2 separate regions of the Homo sapiens genome follow, and region 2 is linked to region 1. A link means that fine-mapping ties the variant in region 1 to the expression of a gene that starts in the linked region. Tissue or cell type: thyroid. Region 1 holds a variant in brackets; the other region holds the start of a gene. All regions are shown on one strand. Distances are between the middles of the regions.

Region 1 (9,909 bases):
ACTCCCAGACTCAACCGATTCTCCTGTCTCAGCCTCCAGGATAGCTGAGACCACAAGCATGCACCACCACATCCAGCTAATTTTTAATTTTTTTGTAGAGAGAGGGTCTGGCTATGTTGCCTAGGCTGGTCTCCAACTCCTGGGCTCAAGCCATCCTCCCACTTCGGTCTCCCAAAGTGATGAGATTACAGGCGTGAGCCACCACGGCCAGCCCCAATCATTGATTTTCAATACAAAGTCTCATGTGCCTAAGTCCCAAGTACTTCCTTTGCACCCCAAACCTAATATGCCCTGAAATATCAGAATGATCGGATTGTGAGACTTCCTGGTCCCTATACCCGTCTGAGCCCAGAAGCTGGACCTCCAACTTACCATGTTCCTGAAATAGAAGCGTTGGCATTCAGTACTCTCTGATTCTTGCACTTCCACACTCAGAAAATGGTTCCCCACATACATTTCTCCCTCATCATAAAACCTTGTGATACCACATATTGTCCAATCCAGAAATATGACTCTCCCAGACCAAGTTCCCTATTATTTCAAAATCCAATGTCCACTAAACAATATGGGGTTCCGGTGGCTCCTCACTCCTCATTCTCCATGCCTGTACAACGTACAGGTACAGCGGGGATTCCTGTTGACCTGCCCTCCTAGGTCAGAATTGTCCTCATGCAAAATCCAATGCCTCCTTCTCACTGAAATGTCTAGCTATCAGGAGCCAGGTTTATACACTCCAAGATTAAGCTGCAAGCCAGGCACGGTGAGTGGCTCATGCCAGCAATCCCAGTGCTTTGGGAGTCCAAGGCTGAAGAATCACTTGAAGTCAGAAGTTCAAGATCAGCCAGGGCAACAAAGTGAGACCCTTTCTCTACAAAAAAAAAAAAAAAATTTAATTAGCCAGGTGTGGTGGCAAGCACCTGTAGCCCCATCTACTCAGGAGGCTGAAGCAGGAGGATCCCTTAAGTCCAGGAGGTCAAGGGTTCAGTGAGCTATGATCACACCACTGCGCTCCAGCCTGAGTGACAGAGCAAAAGACCCAGACTGTGTCTCAAAAAAAAAAAAAAAAAAAAAAAGAATTAGGGTGGCATTGAGAAATCTCATTTTGGTGTCTCAGAAAAGAATCAAGAATAAGAGTCCTGGTGTTAACTCTTATTATAAGAGTCCACTGTTAACTCTATAAGATTTCTTTGATTTTGAAAAAAAAAATGTGATTTCATCTGTTCAATAAAACCAGAGCAGCTTACGCTGATCCAGACCCAGCTGTGTCTCAAGAATTTGACAAAATCTTCCCCCATTTCCAGCTGAATGACCAGATCAATTCCAAGTACAGTGAAGGAGACAGAAGTGGACATAGATAATCACAATTCAAGACCAGGATAGAGGGATATTCACAGCCAGTGGCCTGATTTCCCCCACACAACCACTCGTTCCCTGGAATGACCGTCTGAAAGGAAATTTGCCTCAGCTTGAATGAGAACCACCTGAATCCAGTGTCCCAAGCATATCCTCATCCCCATGATAACCTCAACCAAAACCTGACCCAAACCAATTTAACACAGCCCAATCCAACCACATCACCCACAAGCCCAACCCATCAACCCAACACAACTTAATCTAATTCAAGACAACCCTAATAGCCTCCTTCATTTAAAGATCAAACCAAACTAATGCACATCCTCGCATGCAATAGCCAGCTCCATGTATTCTATCTCCAAAACTAAACCTACTTCATCCCCAATTCAATCCCCACACCCTTCCCAGCCAACATAAAAACAAACCTATTTCCATCCCAAAGCCATGCCATCCCAAACCACCTTTAAATTGCCAATCCCCAAACTCATCCGAAGCAGAATTTTACCCCATCTGTAACTCAACTCCAACCTGACCCTCCATTCTAACTGGTCTTCATACTCCGTTTTCAATGCTATATCCAGCACTTTATCTGGCCAAAGGAGATCAAACACAACCACATCCCACTTCTCGAGCCAGTCCACAGCCTCCTCCCCACCCGTCATGGCCCCCTCTGGGCTCTGACCACACAGGAGTCCGTGCCTTCACCCGCTCTTCCTGCACACACCATGGTGTTCATCAGGGCCCTGGGTAGTCCCTGTTACAAGATGTGGTACAGATGAAGCTGATGCTGGCACAGTGCCTCGTATCTGGGAGACTCACTTGGGAGGACAGTGGAGTGGGGCAAACCCGTAAGTTCAGGCTCCTGTGCCCTCCACCCAGAAGTCCTTGAGATTTCATGGACAGCGACATATGGCCATTCTCTAGCACCTTTCAGTCCTGGTTTCCTGTGGTTCTAGGATCTTTATCGGACACCAGGCCCCGGCCTGGCACCACGCAGGCCACATCCACCAGGGGACGCACGTCCACAGCTCCA[T/G]GGTTGGGACGTGACGGGAGAGGCGCGCTGCAGGGATAGTCGCAGCTACATGACGTCATGGCGCCGGCCTCGCCCGCATAGTGCAGATGCTGAATGATGAGTGGATGATGCCCCAGGCCTCGGGACATGGCACATGTGCAGATTATACTCGCGCAGGCGCACTCTTGTGGAACTAGAAGAGTAGGTGATTACCCTCAAGTGGAGTAAGGAGTAGATGGAAAGATCAAAGCATGGGCAACTCTCAGTCCTCTGACCCTTTGAGAATCAGGAGATTCCATTACCTTCACACCAAACCCTGGAGCCAATGGTTCCAGTCCTTGCTTCCCAGGGACCCACCAAGGAGTCTCAAGCTAACAAACCCCTGCAACTCAACCCCTCACAATTTCAGCCCCTTCTTCCCGAGGATACGGGATTCTTAGACCTCTCAGGCCATTCCCACGTCAGTACCTCGGAAGCTGGGACCTTACCAGTCTCCTCCCTTGGGGATTTAAGAGTTCAGAACCCACATTCCTCCTCTCCAAGGACATTCACCTCCAGCCTCTTCCTCCTTCGGAACCAAGGAGTATGGGCCCCCTCTGCACTCAAGCCCAGAAGTTCTGATCCCCACCCATGTCCCCTCGAAATTCTGAGCACTCCCTTATTCTGGGGTTGGCAGTGGGGCACTGCCAAACATGGTGGGGAACTGGACCTAGAAATCTTGGTTAGGCACAGTGAAGCCAGATGTGGTAGACACACTAATGATGGGATGTTAAGACTGTCCTGCAGACAAGAGTGGAAGGCTCTGGGTGAACAGTGTTGGGAGACAATTTTCCATGGTTCTCTTATGTTTCTGTGTGTCTTCTGAGCAAAGGCAATAATACCGTTTTCTTTTCTGGACCATCTTTTCAAGCATATTTGTACAGCAGATAGCCTTGCAAGATGGTATCGCCTTCAGATCTAGGTTTGCTTACTGCCTTAGATAATAAAGTTAACGTCTATTTTACAGCAGATTTGTTTACTGTTCAGGACAATAAATACAATATGTTCCTCCAGAGTAGGTCTGCTTTCAACCCAATTATAAAGATAATATCTCCGTCAGATACAAAGACTGGACAAGTTTGCTGGTACCTTCTTATAAGATTGAGGATTTCTAAGCCTAGGTTGCTCACCTTTGCCACAAACCCCTGTGTCCATCCACCTGAACTGCTCTGATCATCCCATATGAATTGGGGGGCAAAGTGAACAAATGTGAACACAAAGTTCATGCTGCCTCCTTAGCTGTGGGTAATAAAATCTTTTGCCTCTGACCCAGGAGTCTCATGAGTTCTACCAGCACAAAACTGGCAGGTTAGCTTATGTGTTTGCAAGTCGGTAAAATGTCAGCTCTTTCAGAGTTCTTTTTTTTTTCTCCCCTGTAGGATACACATTTATAGTTCTCTGCAAAGAGTTAGGTACTGTGGCTACACCTGGCCAGCTGGAGATGGAGCTGGGAAGAGTGGGCAGTAAGACTGAGGAAGGGGAGAGGGCACAGAGAGATTATGATGGGCTCCTGGTATCATAGAGGAAGTCTGAGATAACCTCAAAGTCAAGATCTGAGATAGGGGGTCAAGGAAAGTGCATCCCCCTTTCCGGGGCAGAGACATCCAGCCATAATTTCTCTGCAGACAATGTCTAATCATGGTCCTCTGGAGCCCCTTGCATCCAGAATGACTCTGACCTATTGGTCACCCCCTTCTTATCCACAGTCCTTTCCTCTGTCAAATGAGGCTAGTAGTGCCCACCCTGTAGCCATGTTGTGAGGATTAGATGAGCATCTGTGAGTGCTGAAAGCCATGCCTAATACTTTCTTAGCACTCAGCAATGTTAGCACACATAGAAGTCACTCTCCACAGCCAGACATGTGCTGGTGTCTCACACACATGACCACATTTGATCCTCACAATAACCCTGTGAAGGAGAGTGTGCAGTAAAGGATTCTCCTTGCCCAAAGAGGCCAGGTCTTTGCATTCAGCTCCTGAGAGGTCATCTCTAAGCTTTTGAAATATCCTGCCTGTTTAGAGTGCCTGTGTTTACACGGGAGCTTGGGCCACACTGGATAGTCTAACAATGTGATTTATGGTGACAATGTTGGGTTACAGCCTATCAGCTGTAGACGTCTGGAGGGGCTAAGTACTAAAGTTCAGCCATGAAGGTGGTCGACATGTCTGTGCAACCAAGCTCCAATATAATCAAGGCTCAGTTGAGTTCCCTGATTGGCAATACACTGAATATTATCACACATCATTGTATGGAGAAGATACTGCTTTCCATGACACCACTGGGAGAAAACAACAGGAATCTCTGCACTTGGAGCTCTCCTTGTCTTTGCCCCATGCAACTCTTCCCTTGCTAGATTTTCATCTCTATTCTTTTGCTGTAATAAACCATAGCCATGAGCATAACAGCTTTCATTGAGTTATATGAGGGCTACCAGCAATCACTGAACCTGAGGATGATCTTGGTGACTCCCTTGAAATCTCAATTGATGTCAGAAGTAAGGGCCATCTTGAGAACTCCTGAACTCTGCAGAGGGACTCTTATTTCCACTTTAAAGTAAAAGAATGTAAATCAGGTATGTTAATGCACTAGAAACTGGCAAAGCCAGGATTACCATATATAGGTAGAATCCAGGGAATATATTGGGAATGCATTTTTAAGGTGGGTGTAGAATAACGGTAGAAGGAATGTAAAGTTGGATCAGGCTGAAATTATTCATATGAACCTATTAAACAGAAATCCTAGGTTTAACATTGCAGCTAGGGAAGTGGGGAAAGGTTCTAATGGTTTATTCGGTTGTTTGGTTGAAACATGGACCAAAAGATAGCCCACTGTATATGAAGTTGAAATGCCAGACCGGGTCACTGACTACAGACTCCAGCCCTAGAAGGCAGAACCAGGACTGGAGATGTCCTACTCAAGATAATAGAATTCTGACCACAGATTTCAGATTCTAGATGCCTCAAGGACAGACATTAGGATTCAGAGCAAATACCAAACCCCAAACCACAGTCGCAACATGTCAAATATGTGCTCCGGAAGCCAACCCCAAACTGCTGAAGCCAAGCTTCAGACTTCAGCCCCATACTCCTGATTCTAGGCTGAAGAAGCCAAGCTCCAGGTTCTATATTCCCACACTCTAGAACTCAGGAAAATCTCTGGGACAGTAGTTCTCAAACATTTTCCATCTTTGGACACATTTACACTCTTAACAATTATTGAGGGCCCTCCAAGAGCTTTTATTTATGTGGATTATATCTATCCATATTTATCATATTAAACATTTGTTTCATGGTGGGCAGGGTTGTGCAACCTACCCCAAAGTCTGAGGAAGCTGAGAGTCCAAAGAAACAAGCTGACAAATCCAGTTTCTTAGAAAGAAACATTTAATAGAGACTTACCAACAGAAGCCATGTCTGTGTCTCAGGTGGCAGCCAGACAAGATGGTGGACCCCTCTGCCATTATCCCCCAAGACCCAGGGCTTATATGCCATAGGGGAGGAGTCATTCAGAAGGAATGTGTAAGACAATTGAAGTACGATGCCATCAAGGTTGTTTGACCTAAGGACAGGATTTATGGTAAATACCTGCTATTTGGCAAGAAAGAATACATAAACTTGGAATTTTGGAGATCCTTGTATTAGTCCGTTCTCACACTGCTGTAAAGAAATACTCAAGACTGGTAATTTATACAGAAAAGAGGTTTAATTGGCTGATGGTTCTGCAGGCTGTACAGGAAGCATGGTGGCATCTGCTTCTGGGGAGGCCTCAGGGGGCTTTTACTTATGGTAGAAGGCAAAGCAGGAGCAGGTATCTTACATGGCAGTAGGAGGACCAAGAGAGGGAGGGGAGGGGCCACACACTTTTAAATGACCAGATCTCACGAGAACTCACTCACTATCACTGTAACACCACAAAGAAGAAAATCTACTCCCATGACCGAATCACCTACCACCAAGTCCCACCTCCGAACACTGGGGATTACAATTTAACATGAGATTTGGGCAATGACACAGACCCAAACTGTCAGTCTTCCCAGAACAGGGGTTAATCAGAAGCCACCATGGCAGGTTAGCTTTCAGGATAGGTTGCTTTACCTTCTTATTCAAGGTGGAGTTGCTCTGACCTCCACACTCTACCCCCCGAATCTGGCTCTTACAATTTCATGTTTCCTCCTCTTCCATGATGGTCCCTGATCCTTTAGTGAGGGTTTTAAATGTATAGCTTTAGCAGCAGTGCATCAGCAATCTGAAGCAGATCAAGCCCAGTGGATTGCATATGAGGAGATTCACCAGCTGTGTTGAGTCATCTCTAGTCCTCAGAATACCATGGCTTCAGTTTTCTCAAAAGAAGGAAAACTATGAGATACACATAACAATAATTTGAAGAGTAGAACTGTAAGGCACACAAGCTAGAACACCAAAAACAAGAAAACTGTTCTAGTAAAGAGCCAGATAAATGTGTCACGAAGACAATGAAAACCAAGTTCTTCTTTAGAGAGTTTTTGCAACCAGAAAATAATTCAGGATTTAGCTCAAATTGTAGGCACATATAAAAATTCAGAAAAAAAGGTCAGATGCAATCTAAATTTTTCTCTATTTTCCCTGTTCTTACCAAGAGTAAATCATAGCAGGACCAATTTATTTGCAAAATAAATTTTGGCCTCATTATATTTGGCCTGTTTATTTGTGTAAAGTATAGCAAGAAGAGTGATCAGCCATACAGGCCCCTTTTAAGGTAGCTTAGCTGGAGCTTTTATAAAAAATTTTGGATTCGACTTTTAAGAGCCTAAAGTCTTGAAGCCAAGCCACGCCAAAGATTTGCCATTAGGCTGTGCTTGTAATACCTGTATGAATTCCTCTCTTCTCAAGGTCCCAAAATATCTTGAGGTTCTTGGACCTCTTAGAAAATGACATTCTTGGCTGGGCACAGTGGCTCACACCTGTAATCCCAGCACTTTGGGAGGCCAAGGCAGGCAGATCGTTTGAGGTCAGGAGTTTCAAACCAGCCTGGCCAACATGGCACAACCCCGTCTCTACTAAAAATACAAAAATTAGTCGGGCGTGGTGGCGGGCGCCTATAATCCCAGCTACTTGGAAGGCTGATGCAGGAGAATCAGTTGAACCCAGGAGGCAGAGGTTGCAGTGAGCCAAGATCGTGCCACTGCACTGCAGCCTGGGCAACAGAGCAATACTCCATCAAAAAAAAAAAAAAAGAAAGAGAGAAAGAAAGAGAAAGAAAGAAAGAAGGACAAAAAGAAAGAAAGAAAGAAAGAAAGAAAGAAAGAAAGAAAGAAAGAAAAGAAAGAAAGAAAGAGGGAAAGAAAAGAAAGAAAGAAAGAGGGAAAGAAAATGAGAGTAGACCTTTCACATATACAAAAGCTAACTCAAGATGCATTAAAAATGCAAATGTTTACATTCAGACTTTCAAAATTCTAGAAGAAAACCTAGGAAATACTCTTCTTGACCCAGACCTTGGCAAAGAGTTTATGACTAAGTCCCCAAAAGCAATTGCAACAAAAACAAAAATTGGCAGGTGGTTTCTAATTAAACTAAGATGCTTCGGCACAGCAAAAGAAGCCATCAATAGAGTAAACAGACAACCTACAGAATGGAAGAGAGTATTCACAAACTATGCATCCAATAAGAAGTCTAATATCCAGAATCTATAAGGAACTTAAACTAAAAAGCAAAAAATAATCCCATTAAAGTGGCCAAAAGGCATGAAGAGACACTTCTCAAAAGACGTACAAGCAGCCAACAAATATGAAAAAATGCTCATTGTCACTGATCATCAGAGAAATTCAAATGAAAACCACAATGAGATACCATTTCACGCCAGTCAGAGTGGCTATTATTAAAAAGTAAAAATTTGCTTAAGTTCCTTGTAGATTCTGGATATTCTTGACCTTTGTCAGATGAATAGATTGCAAAAATTTCCTCCCATTCTGTAGGTTGTCTGTTTGCCCTGTCAGGGTGAGGGTGGGGCAGTAGTGAGAGCATTAGGGAAAAGAGCTAATGCAGGCAGGGCTTCATACCCAGGTAATGGGTTGACAGGTGCAGCAAACCACCATGGCTCACGTTTACTACCTATGTAACAAACCTGCACATCCTGCACATGTACCCTGGGAAAACAACAACATATTCTTTTTTAAAATAAAGAAAAAAAAACCATGATGACAAAGCTGTGGAGAAAAGGGAATGCTTATATACTGTTCGTGGAAATGTAAATTAGTTTGTTCTCTATGGCAAACAGTTTGGAAAATTCTCAAAGAATTTTAAACAGAGCCACCGTTCAACCCAGCACTCCTATTAATGACTGTATACCCAAAGGAATGCAAATCATTATACCAAAAAGACACATTCATTCATATGTCTACTGCCACACTGCACACAATAGCAAAACTGTGGAATCCATGGAATCTACCTAGTTGCCCATCAATGGTGGATTGGTTAAAGAAAATGTGGTATATATGGGCCGGGCGCAGTGGCTCACCCCTGTAATCCCAGCACTTTGGGAGACCGAGGCAGGTGGACCACAAGGTCAGGAGATCAAGACCATCCTGGCTAACACAGTGAAACCCCCATCTCTACTAAAAACACACAAAAAAATTAGCCGGACGTGGTGGCGGGCGCCTGTAGTCCCAGCTACTTGGGAAGCTGAGACAGAAGAATGACGTGAACCCCGGAGGTGAAGCTTGCAGTGAGCCGAGATCGTGCTACTGCACTCCAGCCTAGGCAGCAAAGCAAGACTCCGTCTCAAAAAAAAAAAAGAAAGAAAATGTGATCTATACGCAATATGGAATACTGCATGGCCATGAAAAATGAATCATATCCTTTACAGCAATATGAATGGAGCTGGAAGCCATAATCCTAAGTGAATTAACACAGGGACAGAAAATCAAATACCACACGTTCTCACTTACAGGTGGGAGCTAAACCTGGAGCACACATAGACATAAACATGAGAACAATAGACACTGCACACTACTAGAATGGGGAGGAAAAGAGGGGGAGTGGGTTGAAAACCTACCTGTTGGGTAGTATGATCACTACCTGAGTTCAATATACCCATGTAACAATCCTATATATGTGCCCCCTGTATTTCAAATAGAAGCTGAAATTTAAAAATAAAAATAAAAAATAAATAAAGTGATTGGGCACGGTGGCTCATGCCTGTAATCCCAGCACTTTAGGAGGCCAAGGCAGGTGGATCACCTGATGTCAGGAGTTCAAGACCAGCCTGGCCAACATGGCAAAACCCCGTCTCTACAAAAAATACAAAAATTAGCCGGGTGTGGTGGCACGCACCTGTAATCCCAGCTACTCGGGAGGCTGAGGTAAGAAAATCACTTGAACAGAGGAGGCAGAGGTTGCAGTGAGTGGTATCGCACTATTGCACTCCAGCCTAGGAGACAGAGCGAGGCTCCATCTCAAAACTAAATAAATATATAAATAAATAAAGTGAGGAGACCATTTTACACTCGCTTAAGCGATGTATGACAATAG
Region 2 (9,909 bases), 44 kb before region 1:
CTATTCGGGAGGCTGAGGCAGGGGAATTGCTTGAACCTGGGAGGAGTAGGTTGCAGTGAACCGAGATCCCACCACTGGACTCCAGCCTGGGCGACAGAGCGAGACTCCATCTCAAAAAAAAAAAAAAAAAAAAAAAAAGCAAGAGTGATGCCTTCTTCCACCCTTGAGGTTTGTTCAAATCCAGCCGACAGGAGTTCCCTGAGGTTACTGAGGAAAACTCAGGGGTCAGTTCCCTAAGGGCTGCTCTGGGCACCTCAGCAGAGATGGCTGGGGCTGCCTCGGGGCCTTAGTGCAGCGGCACCACTGCATCCAGAGATTCATGCCTCTTGTGGCTCAGCCAGCCCCCAGGGGGATGGGAGGTAGAAGGGGCTTGTTCTTCCAGTTATACAGTAAGAGCGGGCTCTCTCGGTGGGCGGGTGGCCCCGTCTGTGGCCGCATTCCCTCCCCTCCCCAGCAATACTCCCTGGCTTCTCTGGCTGAGGCTGCATCTCATCCGCAGGTGGGGGTGAACTCAGATGACTCAGATGATGGATAGTGGGCCAGGGTGGGCCCCCATGACCTGTGTATCTACAGGAAGGCCCACCTGTCCTTTGGCTTCAGCTTCTGTTTCCTGACTTATAGAGAGAGGTGGCATAACAGCTCAAGATATGGGCTCTGGGGTCAGGCAGCCCATGTGCATGGCTGCTTTGCTGTGTGATCTTCAATAAGTAGCTTGCCCTCTCTGTGCGTTCATTTCCTCTTTCATCACATTGGGAATAATGATGAGTACCTCAGGGAGTTATGAAAATTAAAACTAGTTAACTTGTATAAAATTGTTACCATGACAACTAGAAGAGAGGTGATAGATAAATGTTAGATATTTTATCATTATTATTATTACTTGTTTGTTTTCTGAGACAGAGTTTCACTCTTGTTACCTAGGCTGGAGTGCAATGGCGCGATCTCGACTCACTGCAACCTCTGCCTCCCGGGTTCAAGTAATTCTCCTGCCTCAGCCTCCCAAGTTGCTGGGATTACAGGGGCCCACCACCACGCCCAGGTAATTTTTGTATTTTTAGTAGAGATGGGGTTTTGCCATGTTGGCCAGGCTGGTCTCGAACTCCTGACCTCAGATGATCCACCCGCCTCAGCCTCCCAAAGTGCTGGGATTGCAGGCGTGAGCCACCGCGCCCAACCTGATATTTTATTATTTTTAAAGTGATGATTATTCCTAATTCCTGAGACGTGTCTCTCTTTCAGCGTCTTCCTATCTTTTTGGCCACATCTCTCAGTGTGTTCCCAGCTCTCTCCTACTCTCCATCTACCCACTTCTGTCTGTTCTTCTCTTTTGGCCTCAGTCTTTCTGTGACCTTGGTAAACTACTTACCCTCTCTGTGCCTCAGTTTCTCCATCTGTCAAACAAAGTTCATAGCAGCATCTACTTCTTAGATTTTTTTGAGGAATACATTTGTTATTGCATTTAAAATACTTAGAAGAGGGCCAGACATAAGGTAAGTTCTTGACCTCCTTACAATTAATTTAACATATTCTAAAGGTTAATTAATAGTAAGCTACCATTGTTGTCTGTTGTTATTTTCTCTCTCCGTCAGCCTTCATCTCTCCCTCTCCTGTCTGTCTCTCTCTATTTTTGTATCTCCCTTTATCCATCCACTCAACACATCTGCAGTGAATAGTTTTTATCAGTGAACATAACAGACACCAGCCCTGTCCCCAAGGGGCTCCCACACTAATGAAAGAAACAGCTACTAGAAAAATAAACACACAAGACGGGCGCGGTGGCTCTCGCCTGTAATCCCAGCACTTTGGGAGGCCAAGGTGGGCGGATCACCTGAAGTCAGGAGTTTGAGACCAGCCTAGCCAACATGGTGAAACCCCATCTCTACTAAAAATACAAAAATTAGCCAGAATTGGTGGCAGGCACCTATAATCCCAGTTACTGGGGAGGCTGAGGCAGGAGAATCGCTTGAACCCGGGGGGCGGAGGTTGCAGTGAGCAGAGATCGCACCACTCTACTCCAGCCTGGGTAACACAGTGAGACTCCATCTCAAAGAAACAAACAAACAAACAAAAAAGAAAAAAAAAGAAAAAGAAACACATAATAATACGTGTATACATTGTACCAAATTCTCTAAAGGAGCATGTAGGATGCTATAAGATGAAAAAACAAATAGGGGAGTGAAGACCCTGAATCAGACTAGGGGAGGGCTCAGGGAAGGGCTCTGAAGAAGTAACACTTGAGTTGAGACACAATGAAGAGAGCGAAGGGAGAAGTGTTGGAAGCGCATGGAAAACAAAGACAGAGCAACATGAGAGAAGACAGGAGGAAAGTGGAGACAGAGAAAGATAGACAGAGACAAAGGTGCAGAGCCACAGACAGAGAGACAGAGACAGAGATGGGAGGAGAGAGACACAGAGAAAGATGGACAGAGACAGGTGCGGAGACACAGACAGAGAGACAGAGACAGAGATGGGAGGAGAGAGACACAGAGAAAGATGGACAGACACACAGGTGCGGAGACACAGACAGAGAGACAGAGACAGAGATGGGAGGAGAGAGAGACACAGAGAAAGATGGACAGAGACATGTGCGAAGCCACAGACAGAGAGACAGAGACAGAGATGGGAGGAGAGAGAGAGACACAGAGAAAGATGGACAGAGACACAGGTGCGGAGACACAGACAGAGAGACAGAGACAGAGATGGGAGGAGAGAGACACAGAGAAAGATGGACAGACACACAGGTGCGGAGACACAGACAGAGAGACAGAGACAGAGATGGGAGGAGAGAGACACAGAGAAAGATGGACAGACACAGGTGCAGAGACAGACAGAGAGACAGAGACAGAGATGGGAGGAGAGAGACACAGAGAAAGATGGACAGACAGGTGCGGAGACAGACAGAGAGACAGAGACAGAGATGGGAGGAGAGAGAGACAGAGAAAGATGGACAGACACACAGGTGCGGAGACACAGACAGAGAGACAGAGACAGAGATGGGAGGAGAGAGAGACACAGAGAAAGATGGACAGAGACAGGTGCGAAGCCACAGACAGAGAGACAGAGACAGAGATGGGAGGAGAGAGAGACACAGAGAAAGATGGACAGAGACACAGGTGCGGAGACACAGACAGAGAGACAGAGACAGAGATGGGAGGAGAGAGAGACACAGAGAAAGATGGACAGACACACAGGTGCGGAGACACAGACAGAGAGACAGAGACAGAGATGGGAGGAGAGAGACACAGAGAAAGATGGACAGACACAGGTGCAGAGACAGACAGAGAGACAGAGACAGAGATGGGAGGAGAGAGACACAGAGAAAGATGGACAGACAGGTGCGGAGACAGACAGAGAGACAGAGACAGAGATGGGAGGAGAGAGACACAGAGAAAGATGGACAGAGACAGGTGCGGAGCCACAGACAGAGACAGAGATGGGAGGAGAGAGACACAGAGAAAGATGGACAGACACAGGTGCAGAGACACAGACAGAGAGAGAAGGCAAGGTGAGACAGAGACAGGAGGAAAGAGAGACACACAGGGGCAGACAGAGACAGACAGAGATCAGAGGGTCACAGACAGAGGTCAGAGGGAGAGCGAGAGAGAAGGGATCAGAGAGAGAAAGGGACAGGGACAGGGAAAAGAGAGACAGAGACAGAAACCTGCCAGGGCTTCCTGTTCTGTGGTCCCAGCCTATGTCCCGTCCTGCCCAGAGTTATCTGGGGGCGCACGGGCCCAGGACAGAGTTGGGGGAGGGTCTCACTTGGGATGCTTCCAGTCTGGCAGGTGAGAGAAACAGAGACAAGGGGGAGAGAGACAGAGATGGGACCAGAGAGGCAGAGGAAAAGAGAGCCAGAGAGAAAGAGAGACAGACACACGGGGTGGGCTGTGGGGGAAAGAAGTAAGGAAGGAGAAGGAAAGAGTGTTAGAGACCCAGGAGAGACAGAGAGACACAGAGACATTCCTGCCTCGTCGCGGTCACCTGCGGGCACTATCCCTCACCCGCGCCGGCTCCGCGGTCTACACCCACCCACTCCTTGGATGATCTCACCCGGCCTCGTGGCTGTAAACACCACCTCTCCCCTGATGAGTCCCCGCTGTTTCTCGGCAGTCCTGACCTCGGCCTGCCCCTCCGTGCACCCTCCGCGGTCTACGGCACCCTCTCACCCCCCACCCCCCTTCCCGCACCTATGCGTCTCCACAAGATCCGTAGAGCGCAAGCCAGCAGACCAAGCCTCCACGCCATCCTTGGCCCCTCTGCTCCTGGCCCCCCACTTTCCATCCATCGGGCAGTAACTTGGCTCCACATGCAGAGGGGACCCCGTGTCCATTCACCTCTCTTCTCCCTTGACCCCGTCACCTCCCACCTGGGCTGTTGCCACTGCCCCCCGCCCCGCCCCCACCATCACTCTCCAAGCTGGAAGTTTTTAAAAAGTAAATAAGATTATGTCACTCCATCCTCGTGCTTAAAATCCATTGCACTTAAGTAAAACCCAAGCTCCTTAATCCTGGTACGTAAACTCCTGCAGGCCCGCCCGGTTCCCGGTCTGCGCTCCTACCCGCCCTGCCCTCCTACCCGCCCTGCCCTCCTCTGGCTGGAGCCAAGTTCTCCCCTGCACCCCGCAACCGCCCCTGCTGCGGCGACCCTCCTCCTCCTCTTCCCTGGGATCTCAGCTTAAATGTTCCCCTTCTCTGAGTCTCCCCGACCACCACCTTATATGCTGGTCCCTGCAGTTTTCCTTTATGGTCTGTGCCCCCGGGTAGGACGCGATCCCCAGTGACGAGGACTTTGCTGGTTCCTCCTGTGGCCCCAGCACCTGCCGCAGAGCTCGGAGTGTGGTAGGCACTCAGCTGCTTTTCACTGAGCGAAGACTTTTTAGTTCTCCCGCTCACCGAGAGCCTACAATGTGCCTGGCACTGTGTGCCTTTCCCTGAATTACCTCTTTGAATCCACTTGGGAAATGGGGCATAATGGTCACTCCAGTTTTACAGTTGGAAAAACAGGCTCACAGGGGTGCAGTCACTTGCCCAAGGTTCCAAAAATAGTTCGTGATGTAGGCTGGATACGAACCTGGGGAAATTTGCTGGAGAAGCACAGAAAGAGAGGGATGAAGGAGGAGGGGAGAGAGAGAGAGAGATTTAATTTAAAAAGAGAAAGAACATGAGAGAGAACAGGAGAGAATGAGAGGAAATGAAAGAAAACACGAGAAAAATAATGAGAGAGAGAATGAGAGAAAGAAAGAAGAAGAGAAAGAGAAAATGAGAGATACAGGCAAGAGAGAGGTATCTCATGAGAGAGAATAAGAACATGAAAAGAGAAAGAATGAGAGAGAGAGAGAGAAAGAAAAAGGAGAGTGGAGTCTAGGATCTGGGCAGGGGTCTCCTCCCTGGGTCCCTAGACCCTGCTGCCAGCCCCTTCTGGGCCCCCAACCACTGCCTGGTCAGAGTTGAGGCAGCCTGAGAGAGTTGAGCTGGAAGTTTGCAGCACCTGACCCCTGGAACACATCCCCTGGGGGCAGGCCAGCCCAGGCTGAGGATGCTTATAAGCCCCAAGGAGGCCCCTGCGGGAGGCAGCAGGCTGGAGCTCAGCCCAGCAGTGGAATCCAGGAGCCCAGAGGTGGCCGGGTAAGAGGCCTGGTGGTCCCCCACTAAAAGCCTGCAGTGTTCATGATCCAACTCTCCCTACAGCTCCATGTCGCTGGATTCTCAGCCTCTGTGCCTTCTGTCTCCACATCTCTCTAGACAGATCTCTCACTGTCTCTAGTTAGGAGTCACTGTCTCTAGTTAGGGGTCTCTCTGTCTCTCTGAATCTATATCTCCATGTCTAACTCTCAGACTGTCTCTGAGGATATCTCTCAAGCACTCTGTCTCTCCGGCTCTGATTCTCTGTGTGTCTTCCCTCCATGCTTGTTTGTGGGTGGCTAGACACCATCTCTCCCCATTCACAGATGGCTAGATGCTTTCTCTAAACTTTCCTTTCTACCTAGTTCTCTCTCTCTCTCTCTTTTCCCATCTCTCTCTCTCTTTTTCTCTCTCAGTCTCTAAATCTGTCTCTCTAGGTTCTGGGTCCATGGATGGGAGAGGGGGTAGATGGTCTAGGCTCTTGCCTACCTAATAACGTCCCAGAGGGAAGAAAGGGAGGGACAAAGAGAGGGATGGAGAGACTTGGGCTGAAGATCCCCAGACACGGCTAAGTCTCAGTCCTCATCCCCAGGTGCTGACGTGATGGCCACAGCAGGAAATCCCTGGGGCTGGTTCCTGGGGTACCTCATCCTTGGTGTCGCAGGTATCTGAGTATGCGTGTGTGTGTCTGTCCGTGCTTGGGGGCACAGTGTTTGTTAATGTTCAGGTGTGACTCAGTGTCCTCTTGCTTGTGACTGCAAAGCTGCCTGTGAGACGGTACCGTGTTATCCGTCCCCCATGGCTGTGCCCCTGCAACTCCTTGTATCGTGGTAAATTTGTGTGTGGCAGTGTGCCTGGGTGTGTGGTTGTACCTGTGAGACTCTGACAGTTTGTGCCTCTGAATATCTGGTGGAGTGACAACAGTGTAATGATGATATGGGGACAGGGGAAGCCGAGGGTGCAGGAGATTGTGCTTCCTGGGGCGTGATCCATTGCTGGGAATCTGTGCCTGCTTCCTGGGTCTTCAGTCCTGAGATCCCCCTCTCCCATCCCCAAGGAACTCACCTCACAGGACTATAAAACGGTGTTTTGGTGTGCATGGGCTTGTGGCTTGGTGTGACTGTGGGCAAGGCTGGGAGAGGATAGGAGTGACTCGGCGCAGGACCGACTCTTTGAGCATCAGTCTGCGCAGACAAGTGACCCGATCCTTGCTCCCAGCAACAACTCCACCCCCTGAGCTTTAATTCACCCCGAAGGACCCGATCCTACTGCTATGAGCCTAGACTCCTCTGTTGAACCCCTCCTGACCGTGGCTTTGCACCGCGATGGCACCAGTCTCACCTCCAGAGCTCACCCCAGAGCCCTGACTCCGCCCCAGAAGCCCTGGTCCCACCTTCTGAGACTGCCTCTAGCCATAACCCAGCTCTTGAAGCCTTGATGGCGCCCCTGCGCTGTAACCCCAACCCTAGGAGCACTGATCCCGCCTTCTCAGCCCACCCCCATGCCCTGACTCTCCTCCCAGGAGCCCTGACTACCCTGAATCCCTGACCAGGCTCCTGCACCGTGATCACCGCCCCTGGGAGCCCTAGGCCTATATCCTGGACCAGCCCCTGAAGCTCCGATCATGACCCCTGCACCATAACCCCACCCCCAGGAGCCCTGGGTCCGCCCCCTGGGCCCGCCCCCAGCCCTGACTCGGCCCCCCAAGAGTCCTGACTGCTCCTGAAGCCCTGACCACGCCCCTGCTCGGTAACCCCTCCCCCAAGAGCCCTGGGCCCGCCTCCTGAGCCCGTTCCCAGCCCTGACTCCGCCCCGAGGAGCCCTGACTGCTCCTGAACCTCTGACCACGCCCCTGCTCGGTAAGCCCACCCCCAGGAACCCTGGGCCCGCCTCCTGGTCCCGATCCCATCCCTGACTCCGCCCTCAGGATCGCTCGTCTCTGGTAGCTGCAGCCAAATCATAAACGGCGAGGACTGCAGCCCGCACTCGCAGCCCTGGCAGGCGGCACTGGTCATGGAAAACGAATTGTTCTGCTCGGGCGTCCTGGTGCATCCGCAGTGGGTGCTGTCAGCCGCACACTGTTTCCAGAAGTGAGTGCAGAGGTAGGGGGAGTGGGCAGGGCCTGGGTCCGGGGGCGGGGCCTAATATCAGGCTCATCTTGGGGTGCTCAGGGGGAAACAGCGGTGAAGGCTCTGGGAGGAGGACGGAATGAGCCTGGATCCGGGGAGCCCCAGAGGGAAGGGCTGGGAGGCGGGAATCTTGCTTCGGAAGGACTCAGAGAGTCCTGACTTGAAATCTCAGCCCAGTGCTGAGTCTCTAGTGAACTAAGGCAAGTTCTTGTCCCTGAATTTTTGTGAATGAGGATTTGAGACCATGGTTAAGTAGCTCTTAGGGTGTTTAGCGAAGAGGGTGGGGTTGGGGTTAGGAGATGGGGATGGGAATGGGGTTGAAGATGAGAATGGAGGTAAGGATGTAGTTGCCACAAAACTGACCTGCCCTCCGTGGCCCACAGCTCCTACACCATCGGGCTGGGCCTGCACAGTCTTGAGGCCGACCAAGAGCCAGGGAGCCAGATGGTGGAGGCCAGCCTCTCCGTACGGCACCCAGAGTACAACAGACCCTTGCTCGCTAACGACCTCATGCTCATCAAGTTGGACGAATCCGTGTCCGAGTCTGACACCATCCGGAGCATCAGCATTGCTTCGCAGTGCCCTACCGCGGGGAACTCTTGCCTCGTTTCTGGCTGGGGTCTGCTGGCGAACGGTGAGCTCACGGGTGTGTGTCTGCCCTCTTCAAGGAGGTCCTCTGCCCAGTCGCGGGGGCTGACCCAGAGCTCTGCGTCCCAGGCAGAATGCCTACCGTGCTGCAGTGCGTGAACGTGTCGGTGGTGTCTGAGGAGGTCTGCAGTAAGCTCTATGACCCGCTGTACCACCCCAGCATGTTCTGCGCCGGCGGAGGGCAAGACCAGAAGGACTCCTGCAACGTGAGAGAGGGGAAAGGGGAGGGCAGGCGACTCAGGGAAGGGTGGAGAAGGGGGAGACAGAGACACACAGGGCCGCATGGCGAGATGCAGAGATGGAGAGACACACAGGGAGACAGTGACAACTAGAGAGAGAAACTGAGAGAAACAGAGAAATAAACACAGGAATAAAGAGAAGCAAAGGAAGAGAGAAACAGAAACAGACATGGGGAGGCAGAAACACACACACATAGAAATGCAGTTGACCTTCCAACAGCATGGGGCCTGAGGGCGGTGACCTCCACCCAACAGAAAATCCTCTTATAACTTTTGACTCCCCAAAAACCTGACTAGAAATAGCCTACTGTTGACGGGGAGCCTTACCAATAACATAAATAGTCGATTTATGCATACGTTTTATGCATTCATGATATACCTTTGTTGGAATTTTTTGATATTTCTAAGCTACACAGTTCGTCTGTGAATTTTTTTAAATTGTTGCAACTCTCCTAAAATTTTTCTAATGTGTTTATTGAAAAAATCCAAGTATAAGTGGACTTGTGCAGTTCAAACCAGGGTTGTTCAAGGGTCAACTGTGTACCCAGAGGGAAACAGTGACACAGATTCATAGAGGTGAAACACGAAGAGAAACAGGAAAAATCAAGACTCTACAAAGAGGCTGGGCAGGGTGGCTCATGCCTGTAATCCCAGCACTTTGGGAGGCGAGGCAGGCAGATCACTTGAGGTAAGGAGTTCAAGACCAGCCTGGCCAAAATGGTGAAATCCTGTCTGTACTAAAAATACAAAAGTTAGCTGGATATGGTGGCAGGCGCCTGTAATCCCAGCTACTTGGGAGGCTGAGGCAGAAGAATTGCTTGAATATGGGAGGCAGAGGTTGAAGTGAGTTGAGATCACACCACTATACTCCAGCTGGGGCAACAGAGTAAGACTCTGTCTCAAAAAAAAAAAAAAAAAAAAGACTTTACAAAGAGATGCAGAGACACTGAGACAGATAAACAAGCCACAAAGGAGACAAAGGAGAGACAGACAAACAGAAACAGACAGACCACAAGCCCAAGAGAAGCAGCCAGCATTCAGGACATAGGACATCGGGAAGCAGGATTAGATGAAGTCAGGGATCTGGAATGGGACTTCCAACAGATATGTTGCTGGGCTATGTTGTTATTGATGATGGTTCTGTCTTTGTTTCTCAGTCTCATTTAGTTCCTTTCTGAGCCCACATCCATTTCCACCTCTCTGTGTTTTGAATTCTGACTCTCCCTCTCTTCACAACAGGGTGACTCTGGGGGGCCCCTGATCTGCAACGGG

The links. PIP is the estimated chance that this variant, and not a neighbour inherited with it, causes the effect.
Region 2: KLK4 starts here. The variant in region 1 is the best candidate, but not a certain one, in a credible set for the expression of KLK4 in thyroid (GTEx, PIP 0.73).

The regions. Positions count from the first base shown.
Region 1 is chr19:50,863,121-50,873,029 of GRCh38, reverse strand. No RefSeq gene overlaps it. Among named protein-coding and RNA genes, the nearest start is that of KLK2, 5.4 kb to the left of the region's middle. RefSeq lists promoters at 1-191, 1-6,610, enhancers at 2,243-2,537, 3,395-3,417, 3,178-3,764, 3,146-4,029, 3,237-4,404 and 1 more and a cis regulatory region at 3,395-3,417. The variant T/G (reference allele first, on the strand shown) is at 2,387.
Region 2 is chr19:50,907,054-50,916,962 of GRCh38, reverse strand. It overlaps KLK4 (kallikrein related peptidase 4), which reads left to right and starts at 5,568. Exons shown (of 6, transcript NM_004917.5): 1 at 5,568-5,624; 2 at 6,214-6,285; 3 at 7,549-7,711; 4 at 8,134-8,384; 5 at 8,468-8,604; 6 at 9,877-9,909. The coding sequence starts at 6,225.